Linked DNA regions of Homo sapiens: region 2 is linked to region 1. The links come from fine-mapping of genetic effects on gene expression. A gene starts in region 1. The other region holds a variant in brackets. All regions are shown on one strand. Distances are between the middles of the regions.

Region 1 (5,389 bases):
TGACAAGCTCTTCTTGAGCACACCTTTGTTTGCATCTCCATCATAATTATTACTCATCACTTCCCATCTTTCTAGTCTCAAGTCTTACTTTTATTCCCCTTAATGCCCCGAATAGGTGCTCCTTTCCCACCTCGCTTGACCCTTTCCACACCTTCTGCTCCCAGCCTAGACTGTGCTCACCAGATGCCACTATCCCCCATTCTTTCTATCTGTTAACTTCTGCTTATCTTTGAGATGTCAGAATAAATGTCACTTCCTTTGGGAACCTGTTTGTATTCCATTAAATCTGAGTTTAGTATATTTCCCAATTAAGAGGCTGCTTAGTTATCTGTCATTCCCAAGTAACTATAAACTCTCTCAGGATAGGGGCTCTTTCCTTTACACCATTGTATTCGAGGGCCTAGCACAATGTCTGGAACATCTGTTTTCCAGTACATAATTGTTGAGTAAAAGTGGAATGGAGTCAAGACCAGTGCTATGTATATCTTTGGACTATATGTAACAGAAAACCCAAGCAAGAGTGGCTTTATGAGAATGTTTAATTGTGTATTTAATGTGGTGTTTAGGGGTAGGTAGGTCCATGAATCAGTGGTGTTATAGGCATATAACTTCTTTTGTCCTTTTCTCACCGTAATTTTCATGGTGATTTGCATCCTCCTCACCACCTAAAGATGGCTACCATGCTCCAAGCATTGCATTTTCATGGATCACTTTCAAAGAAAGGCAGAAAGGGGAAGACAGAAAAAAATGTTCTTCTCTCTGTTTCATCAACAAGATAACCTTTCCCACAAGACCATGTCTTTCTCTTCTATTTCATTGTTTAGAACTGGGCCACACGCCGACCCATAGACAAATCATTGACTCATCTTGGTGCTTTTAGCTGAAGTCATGCTGCACAAAGTTGGGGTTCTTTCAGCAAGAAATACAAGTAAATAGCGGATGGGTAAGAAGTGAATGATAGCCACCACTCGTGTCTTTAATGAAGTTTTACTAAAATCCAGAACTCCTTTCTTCAAATATGCATTTTACCTTAGATTGGTACTACTTACAAGGCAACATTCACACCGGCACATTATACTTCAGTATGGGTACCTCGGGAGCCTCTGGCATGAAGAGCTCTAGTTGTCTTCCTGTTTATTCTCATCAGCCACTTTCTCCTGGCCAGAGAGCACGTTGATCTCTCCTGAACACCAAGTTGGACACTTATGCCTGCTCAAGGCAATCAGTGTCTATTTCAGTCAGCAGAAACAGCCAAGTATCATCCCTAATAGTTTTCATTCCCAGCAAATTTTCTTCCATAGTCAAAGTGCAAGGATACAATAAGAGCCAATAAAATGACAAAAGTTTTCATCACAAACAAATTAACTGACTCTGGAATGGATCACAGTATACCTATTTTCTAATCAAAATATCAAATTCAGTGGTGTTGAAATTTGGGCTATATCCTTAATCCTCGGACTTTCTAGCATCTCTTCCCTCCACATACTTTGCTCATTTGAAAACTTTTGTAAACTCTAAAGAGAAAATGAAAAGAATCAAGTTATTAATATAGTTTACTTTTTAAAGCCTCTTTCTTCTTGGTTAGTGTAATGATTATGATGATGATTATTTCTCTCTTAGTGACTGTGGTGGGTGCTATCGTTGGCTTTTTATGACTATCATCTTAAATCTTTATATTACTGTATAGTTATTATTGACATTTTATGTACTAGAAACTGAAATTCCAGATTTTAAGTGATTTGTCCAGGGTCTTCAGTGAAGCACGGATTAGAACTCAGATTTTTCTAATTCCAAAATGATTCCTACATTCTCTATCATGAGCCTACCTCCCTTCCTTCAATTCTCATTGTCACCCCCAATATGTTCATTACTTTTTCAAAGTCTGCAGGGTTTTTATACATCTCTCACTGGCTAATCCTTTTATCTTAGGTTTTTAGCAAAGTGACTATTCTCATTCCTTGGCTGAGACATTTATGGATCGCATACAAAATGATTTCTCCTTCTAGTTTGCCAACTTCTTCCCCCGTCATTCCTCAGGTCTTGAGGCACTCATATCTAGCTCAATAAACAAACACTAGGAAAAAAACCCACAATAACCAGATTAACAGACCAATCCTGTTCCTGAGAAGATTTTCTCTCTTTCCTTTGTTAGTCTAATAGGCAAGGTGTGTACTAAGAGATTTTAAAAGCGCCTGGGAAGAGCAATCACAAGTTGTGACGATTCCAAGTTCACAGAAGCCCAAGGGATTTTGACATTTCTCCAAGGAGTTAGCCAGAAGAGATCCTCGCCGGTTGAGTTCAGATGGAAGAGAACAGTAAGAAGGACCATCGGGCTTTGCTCAACCAGGGAGAGGAGGATGAACTGGTGAGTCTTCCCTTTATTTTATTAGTCTTCTCAAAGAGCCCAAGGCGGTGAGTATGGGCTACAGCTGAATTAGAAAATAGAGTGTAGCATTTATGCTTCAGGCTTTAGGACCTTGAAAGGTTTCAGTCTGGTAAGGTTCCTTAAGGGCTGCAAAGCACCATTTTATTGTGGGGAAACCTGCAGGGGCTGAGAAACTTGTGACCTCTGGATGATAGAATTCTTGCCATCTTCATATGAACCTGTGATGTTTCCTCGCACATTTACAGTATTTGCAGAGCCCCGCATGGTGCTCAGTGGGGTGTCTCCCCCTTATTATCTGGATTGCTATGTGATGGAACAAACTCTATTGAAAACAAGAACTCTTTTTTATTCTCGTGCTTTGGGTATGTATGCATAACCTAGGCTTAGGGGGCTCTGGGCTGAAGTCATGCTTTTTATAAGCGCAGAGAGAAGTTTTAAGCATCAATTACTAAAGAAGGAGTAGAATGTGGCCTGGGATTTTTAACACATATTTTAAACATTTCTCATGTCTCCAATTTTTTCCCCACTCTTGTTTTCATCAAACACACACACACACACACACACACATTTAAAAATAATAATTAAAAAGTTGAAAACTATAGTGTTTATTTGGTGCTGAGGTGTTTATATTTATGATTTTATATAATCCTCAGACCTCAGTGATGAAAGAACTAATCCTATTTAATTGAAAAGAAATCTGAGACCAGGGAGGTTAAATAACTTGCCCAAGGTCATTAGCCTGCAAGGGACAGGCTGGGAATCCAGCCGACTCCTTCTCCACATCCTGTGCTGTTCACCATACAACAGTGGCTCCAGCTAGACAATGAAGAAAGGAGACAGAGACAGACAGGGGAAGGGTCAGAGTGAGGGCACATTTGGGGGCCCCAAAGAACTTGGAGAACATGGTTTGTAGATTAGAATGATGTCAGTTTCCTGGCTGGCATCCTGGTTCCCTGTGAGATCTGGGGCAAATCCATACCGGCTCTCCCTCCACCTATCCCTGTTTGCTACTCTAAGGAAAACATATGATTTCATCTACATCTATGTTGTTCAATAAGGCAGCCATGGGCCACGTGTAGTTTCTGAGCACTAGAAAAGTAGCTAGTCCACACAAAATATGCTTTATGTGTAAAATACGCACCAGATTTTGAAGAATTTAGTAAAAAAAAGTAAAACATCTTATTAATAATTTTTATATTGTTTACACATTGAAATGACAATATTTTAGATAGCTTAGGTAAAAATTTCACCTGCTTCTCTTTACATCTTTAATGTGGCTGCTAGGAACGTTAATATTAAGAAGGCAGCTCATATTTGTGGCTTGCATTATTGTAGCACGCTAAGCTTGACAATAGCACAGCACTTTAAAATCTTCAGAATTAAAGCTTTTAAAGAATGAAAATCTATTCACCTGTGTTCACTGCTGAACAATTCTGTTAGCTCTGATGTTTTCAACATGTAGATAAGAGTGCATGAAAAATTACATTGCTCTTTATTCTTCTCTAACTAGTTGCTTTATTTGTAAAGTTTATAGCCTGATACTTTAATTCTCTCACTCACAAACAGGACATTGGTATCATAGGATTAAATAATGAGCCAGGTGCCCCAGTTTTCTTCATTTTTGCAGGTGATCAAACCCTTTTACAGACACTCACCAGAAATGTCTATTAGGAATCCAAGTAAGCTTAACTCATTGTGGGGAAGGGGAGATGGCTCTAGATTTCTTTTTCAGAATTCTGGGGCGTAGAGCACAGATGCAAATCCTATTCTGGTTGATCAGGTAATCCACAGACTCCGCTAGGCCTGAGGGAGCTGGGGTGACCGAACTGTGGAAGCTGTGACTTAGCTCCAGGCAATTGCTGAACTGATCTTGCAATTGCTAGCCTTTTAGAAGGAAGCCGGATGGGGAACAACACATACTGGGGCCTATCAGAAGGTGGGAGATGGGAGAAGGGAGAGCATCAGGAAGAATAGCTAATGGATGCTGGGCTTAACACCTAGGTGATGGGTCAATCTGTGTGGCAAACCACTATGGCACACTTTTACCTAAGTATCAAACCTGCACATCCTGCGCATGTACCCCTGAACTTAAAATAAAAGTTGGAAATTAAAAAAAGAAAAGAGACCCCTGGCCAGGCATGGTGGCTCATGCCTGTAATCCCAGCACTTTGGGAGGCTAAGGTGGGAAGATCTCTTGAGGCCAGAAGTTCAAGACCAGTCTGGTTAACATAGCAAAAGCCTGTTTTTCTTATAAATAAAAGAAAAGAGAACCTAGAGATCTCCCTTGTCCCTTCTACCATGTGAGGGCACAGAGAAAAGATGGCAGTCTATGCACCAGAAGGAGGGTCCTCATCAGACACTGGATCTGCCAGCACCTTGATCTTGGACTTCCCAGACTCTAGAAATAGATGTTTTTAAATCTAAAAGGTAAAAAATAAATAAATCGAGGGAAGCCAGAAATCTGACTTTTTATGTGATGTAGCCTGATGATAAATTTTGAAAACAAATTCATCTTTTGAAAACAATCAGTAGGTCAAAGTAAACCTGGGCATGGTTTAGTCCCAGCCTTGGGGGCTGTCGCTCTCTGATGTTGACAGCCTCGCCCCACTTGCTCTTCCTTCCCCGAAGATTCCCTGTGGCCCGGTCTAACTTCTACTCGCATTCATTATTTCAAGTGAACAATCCGTTGTGATCGTGAGAGTCACTGTGGTAAAAATTAGAGACAGTCGAGGCAAATAATGAACTCCTTCAATCAAACACCCATGAAGAGCCTAAGTGGATGGAGGGGCGATGCTGTGAGATTATGCAAGCTCAGTCTTGCGTGATTCTGCTGAGCTCAGCATGGAGATAAAGCCTTGCACTGGCCTCTAGAGCTGAACCCTGTTATCATTCCCATCTCCTGTTCTCATCCTGGTAGTGCTTACTGTCCTGGGCATGGTGCGGTACTAGGTGCTTGACACACAGGTTTTCATTTTACCCAAAACTTTACAACAGCCCTGCAAT
Region 2 (5,389 bases), 43 kb after region 1:
ATGGAAGAACATTCCACACTCATGGATAGGAAGAATCCACATTGTGAAAATGGCCATACTGCCCAAGGTAATTTATAGATACAATGCCATCCCCATCAAGCTACCAATGACTTTCTACACAGAATTGGAAAAAACTACTTTAAAGTTCATATGCAACCAAAAAAAGAGCCCACATTGCCAAGACAATCCTAAGCCAAAATAATGAAGCTGGAGGCATCATGCTACCTGACTTCAAACTATACTACAAGGCTACAGTAATCAAAACAGTGTGGTACTGGTACCAAAACAGAGACATAGACCAATGGAAAAGAACAGAGCCCTCAGAAAGAATACCACACATCTACAACCATCTGACAAACCTGACAAAAACAAGAAATGGGGAAAAGATTCCCTATTTAATAAATGGTGCTGGGAAAACTGGCTAGCCATATGTAGAAAGCTGAAATTGGATCCCTTCCTTACACCTTATACAAAAATTAATTCAAGATGGATTAAAGACTTAAATGTTAGACCTAAAACCATAAAAACCCTAGAAGAAAACCTAGGCAATACCATTCAGGACATAGGCATGGGCAACGACTTCATGTCTAAAACACCAAAAGCAATGGCAACAAAAGCCAAAATTGACAAATGAGATCTAATTAAACTAAAGAGCTTCTGCACAGCAAAAGAAACTACCGTCAGAGTGAACAGACAACCTAGAGAATGGGAGAAAATTTTTGCAACCTACTCATCTGACAAAGGGCTAATATCCAGAATCTACAAAGAACGCCAACAAATTTACAAGAAAAAAACAAACAACCCCATCAAAAAGTGGGCGAAGGATATGAACAGACACTTCTCAAAAGAAGACATTTATGCAGCCAAAAGACACATGAAAAAATGCTCATCATCACTGGCCATCAGAGAAATGCAAATCAAAACCACAATGAGACACCATCTCACACCAGTTAGAATGGCAATCATTAAAAAGTCAGGAAACAACAGGTGCTGGAGAGGATGTGGAGAAATAGGAACACTTTTACACTGTTGGTGGGACTGTAAACTAGTTCAACCATTGTGGAAGACAATGTGGCGATTCCTCAAGGATCTAGAACTAGAAATACCATTTGACCCAGCCATCCCATTACTGGGTATATACCCAAAGGATTATAAATCATGCTGCTATAAAGACACATGCACACGTATGTTTATTGTGGCACTATTCACAATAGCAAAGACTTGGAACCAACCCAAGTGCCCATCAATGATAGAATGGATTAAGAAAATGTGGCACATATACACCATGGAATACTATGCAGCCATAAAAACGGATGAGTTCATGTCCTTTGTAGAGACATGGATGAAGCTGGAAACCATCATTCTCAGCAACTATCTCAAGGACAAAAAATCAAACACCACATGTTCTCACTCATAGGTGGGAATTGAACAGTGAGAACACTTGGACACAGGAAGGGGAACATCACACACCGGGGCCTGTCGTGAGGTGGGGGGAGTGGGGAGGGATAGCATTAGGAGATACACCTAATGTAAATTATGATTTAATGGGTGCAGCACACCAGCATGGCACATGTATACATATGTAACAAACCTGCATGTTGTGCACATGTACCCTAGAATATAAAGTAGAATAAAATAAAAAGAAAAAACTATGTGTTTTGAACCTATTACATATCACTAGGAAAATGAAGAGTATACAAATTTATATATGTCAAAGTTCTTGTTCCCAGTTATGACCTAGAAAGAGAGATGAGACCTAAATTTGTATAACTATGATTGATATAATACTATTTCCAAATTAGAAATATGACAAGTTATCTTGCTAATTGAACATTTAGTAAAAGACTGATGGAATTTTAAATTCATTCTAATACTCTTTAAATCTTGGAGCCAAAAATTATTATTAACATCTTTATTTTGTCTCTGAAATGTATCCTTTTTGAACTCTGAGCTGATTTCTTTGTACCTTAAATATTCTGTCTTATAGCCACCAGGGAAAGGAAAAAAATTGCTACCTGCAAAGAATGGGGGCCAATAAAAGGAAATGCAAGTGGCCTAGTTGAGCTGGAGCTTTTGTAGGGGAATGTCAGGCAATGATGTTTGAATCATGGTAGGCTTTGACAATCTAGCAGGAGAGTTTGGTCTTTATTCAGTAGTGGCAATGGAAAAGGCTAACGATTTTGAGCAAAAGAATGAGATGATAAAAATGGGACTTGGATGGGATCCATCTGAAAATGATGTGGAATAACTACTATTTTCTCACCTTGCTCCATGAGCTTATGAGGGCAAGATTTCTGTCTCTCTTGTTCATCATATTCCTAGCACCTAGCACAGTTCCTGGAACAGAATAAGCACCTAAAATAGCTGAATGAATGGGTGAATGAATAAACAAATGAATAAATGAGTGAATGCAAAGCAAATAGTAATTACTATTCACGTGCTGGAAAGCTCCTTCATTGCCTAAAATAGTGCTGGGCTTAATGAATGCTTGGGAGAATGATTCAGTGATAACTCATCTATAATAGGCTGCTTTTAAAATTATGACAACAAACCATGCAGGCCAGGTATAGGATAGATAGGCAGATCTAATCTAAATATTTGCAATAGAATCAAGTCTACCATTGCTTGTACCACCAGCATCTCTATGAACAGTCATCTGACTCATGGGATGGGCATTAAGACCGGATTAGTTGTGGTTTGTATAATTTCTTGAAACTGGCATGCACCAGTTCTGACCAACTACCTGAGCTTACATAGATTCAACAAAATACAATCCTCTTTAGGAGAAAGTATACCTGTTACAAAGACACCATTGCCCCAGATGGAGAACACTATGCCTTGGAAATGTCACAGTTTGGAGGATTATAGGAAACACGTCCTTTTCTGTGGAACAGAAGTTATC[C/T]AGGTCAAGCCCTCTGGGCAGGGGCCTGTACGAGCAGTCGTTTTGCAAACAGGTTAGTGGATTCCACTTTTGTAAGTTTAATTCATGCTTGAACATGGGGAGAGTTGGATTAGGGAAATTTAGTTTAGGATTATGGAGTCTGCCACATTCTGGTAGTAACAACATGCTTTTTTCCAAACAGACACTTATTATTCTAAAGTGTCACTATTTTTAATTAAATGGTTTATTGGTAAAACCCTTCTATGTGATGAAGGGTATGTGTAGGTGAAGTAAAATTTGTCAAAGGTAAAACTATGCTCTTCTTTTTGCTTGTGACCATACGCTGCTTCTATCTCCCTTGACACCTCCTCTGAGTGATTACCAAAAAACAATTTCAGCCACCACGACTATGAGGATTTTTTCCTTTCAAAGAGTTGCTTGCTAGGCTGTATGTCAAATTCAGTAATAAAGAACTCCACCTGGGTGCCCTATAGACCAGTTAAAGCCAACGAATCTGAAACTATTCATCCTCCTGTATTGACTTTCTCTGTTAATATCATCACCATCATGCTGGTCTCTTAATAACATCTCCAACTCCTCTTGTTTCCCATACCAAATGTGGCACCAAATCTGGATGATTCCGCAAACACTTCCTGAGTCCCAGTCTTTTACATGACGTGACACAATGAAGGCCTCCTATGACCTGGTCCTAGCTCTCTGTTCTAACCTCTGACCTCTGTTTCTGCCACCCGACTTATTCACAGATGCAAAATACACTTTACACTGTGATACCTGCATGCTTTAGTTTGGTTTATGATTTAGTTGTTCTAGCTGATTTTTTAAAATTAAAAATATCTAATTTTTTTAAATGTTCAAACTAGTTAGCAGGCACTAGACACTAGAGCATTGCTCAGCCTGTGGCCTACATGGAAGCTCATGGTTAAAAATCATGAAAACCACCTGAAAACTTATAAAATGATTAGGTAGAAGGTTAGAGGACACTCTACTCTTTTCCTCAAAGACAGTAAAGCCATTTTTAGGAGACCAAGTGTCCATCAAGCAGCCTTACTTGATCTATGATTATCTTTATGTAGGTTACAATACAGCCAAAGGGGACTTAGTGAGATCCATCCTGTACCCCCGGCCTCTGAACTTCAAACTATACAGCGATGCCTTCAAGTTCATCGTGTTCCTGGCCTGCCTTGGTGTCATGGGTTTTTTCTATGCCCTAGGGGTATATATGTACCATGGAGTAAGTACTGGGGGTAAGGCTTTTCAATAGTATAGATTCTGCAAAGAGCTTGACCTAACTCAGAGGATTGGTTTAGGTTACATCTTGATCCCATCATTCTGTGAATCATTACTGTCCAAAAGAGCTTCTTAGACAGCGGAAATGTTCTCATGCCTAGTTTGCCCCCAGTGTTTAGGTAATATCTAAAACACTATGCAATCAGTGGGTTTCCCATGTGTTCTGGTTAGGGTCTGAAATGAAGTTAATTTCCACTTTTACAGAGCTGGTACTGCATGAGATACCTACTTCCCTTTAAGCTACAGGGTGTCAGGTTTCATTTGGATGCTCCTTGTCATAGCCTGGTGGCTAGGGAGGGAAGGGTTGTCACTAAAGACCTCTGAGGTCCTTTCTGGTCCTGAGAGTCTGATTTTGCTGTGAACCAGAAAATAAGAAAGTCTGGGATCATAACAGTGTGAGCTGGTGGGGAGGAAGAGAAAATTGTGAATAAAACATCCAAACAGGTGAAAAACTGTGAGTGGCTTAATTACAATGTCCAAATTGGTGGCATCAATGAGCGTGTGTGTGTGTGTGTGTGTGTTTGTGTGTGTGTGTTTGTGTGTGTGTGTGTGTGAGAGAGAGAGAGGTGGGCAGTGAATATTGGTGGGAAAAGACATAGTAACAAGAATTTCAAGGCAATGTTCACGCCAAAACTTAACTGCTGAGTAGTTATTTCAATCTGAAATAGCTCCCAGGGAGCATTTCTGGGTCAAGAGAGGCCCACGATGGGGCCTGTGAAGAGCTAGGCAGAATGTCAAGGTCACTGGGGCTGGAATTTGAGGGAGTATGCCAATTTAATCTGGGGAGCTGGAGCATTGGGCAGAAAAGCAGGAAAAAAGCTCATGGAAGCCCTGGCAGTATTTGAGAATGAGGTTTCCTGGGAAGAACTTAACATCCAATACACACTGAGGCAACAAGACTAATAATCCCAGACCCCAACTTCTTGTGGGTCAGAACCTGTGGCTCTGTTGGCTGCCTCTATCTGCACTGGTTCAGCGCTAGACAAGGCTGAGTCCTTAGGGTCAAAACTCTTCCGTGTCTGTGGTTGGGAAAAGAAGGGAGTAATGAATTTTGTGATAAATTGATATTGGGCAAAAGATGTCCCAGCAGACATTGCTACTGAACTTGAATCCCATGTTTCCAATACTTAAAAAAGTATTTATGGCTAAAATGATGGTTAATTTAACAAAAACATAGGTGAGGTTCTAGAGGGTAGAATC

The links. PIP is the estimated chance that this variant, and not a neighbour inherited with it, causes the effect. A credible set is the group of variants that fine-mapping cannot tell apart.
Region 2: its variant is the best candidate, but not a certain one, in a credible set for the expression of ATP13A5 in nasal epithelium (TOPMed, PIP 0.63).

Annotation. Positions count from the first base shown.
Region 1 is chr3:193,375,639-193,381,027 of GRCh38, reverse strand. It overlaps ATP13A5 (ATPase 13A5), which reads left to right and starts at 2,275. Exons shown (of 30, transcript NM_198505.4): 1 at 2,275-2,365. The coding sequence starts at 2,303.
Region 2 is chr3:193,332,494-193,337,882 of GRCh38, reverse strand. It overlaps ATP13A5 (ATPase 13A5), which reads left to right. Exons shown (of 30, transcript NM_198505.4): 10 at 2,784-2,954; 11 at 3,976-4,133. Among named protein-coding and RNA genes, the nearest start is that of ATP13A5-AS1, 28 kb to the right of the region's middle. The variant C/T (reference allele first, on the strand shown) is at 2,903.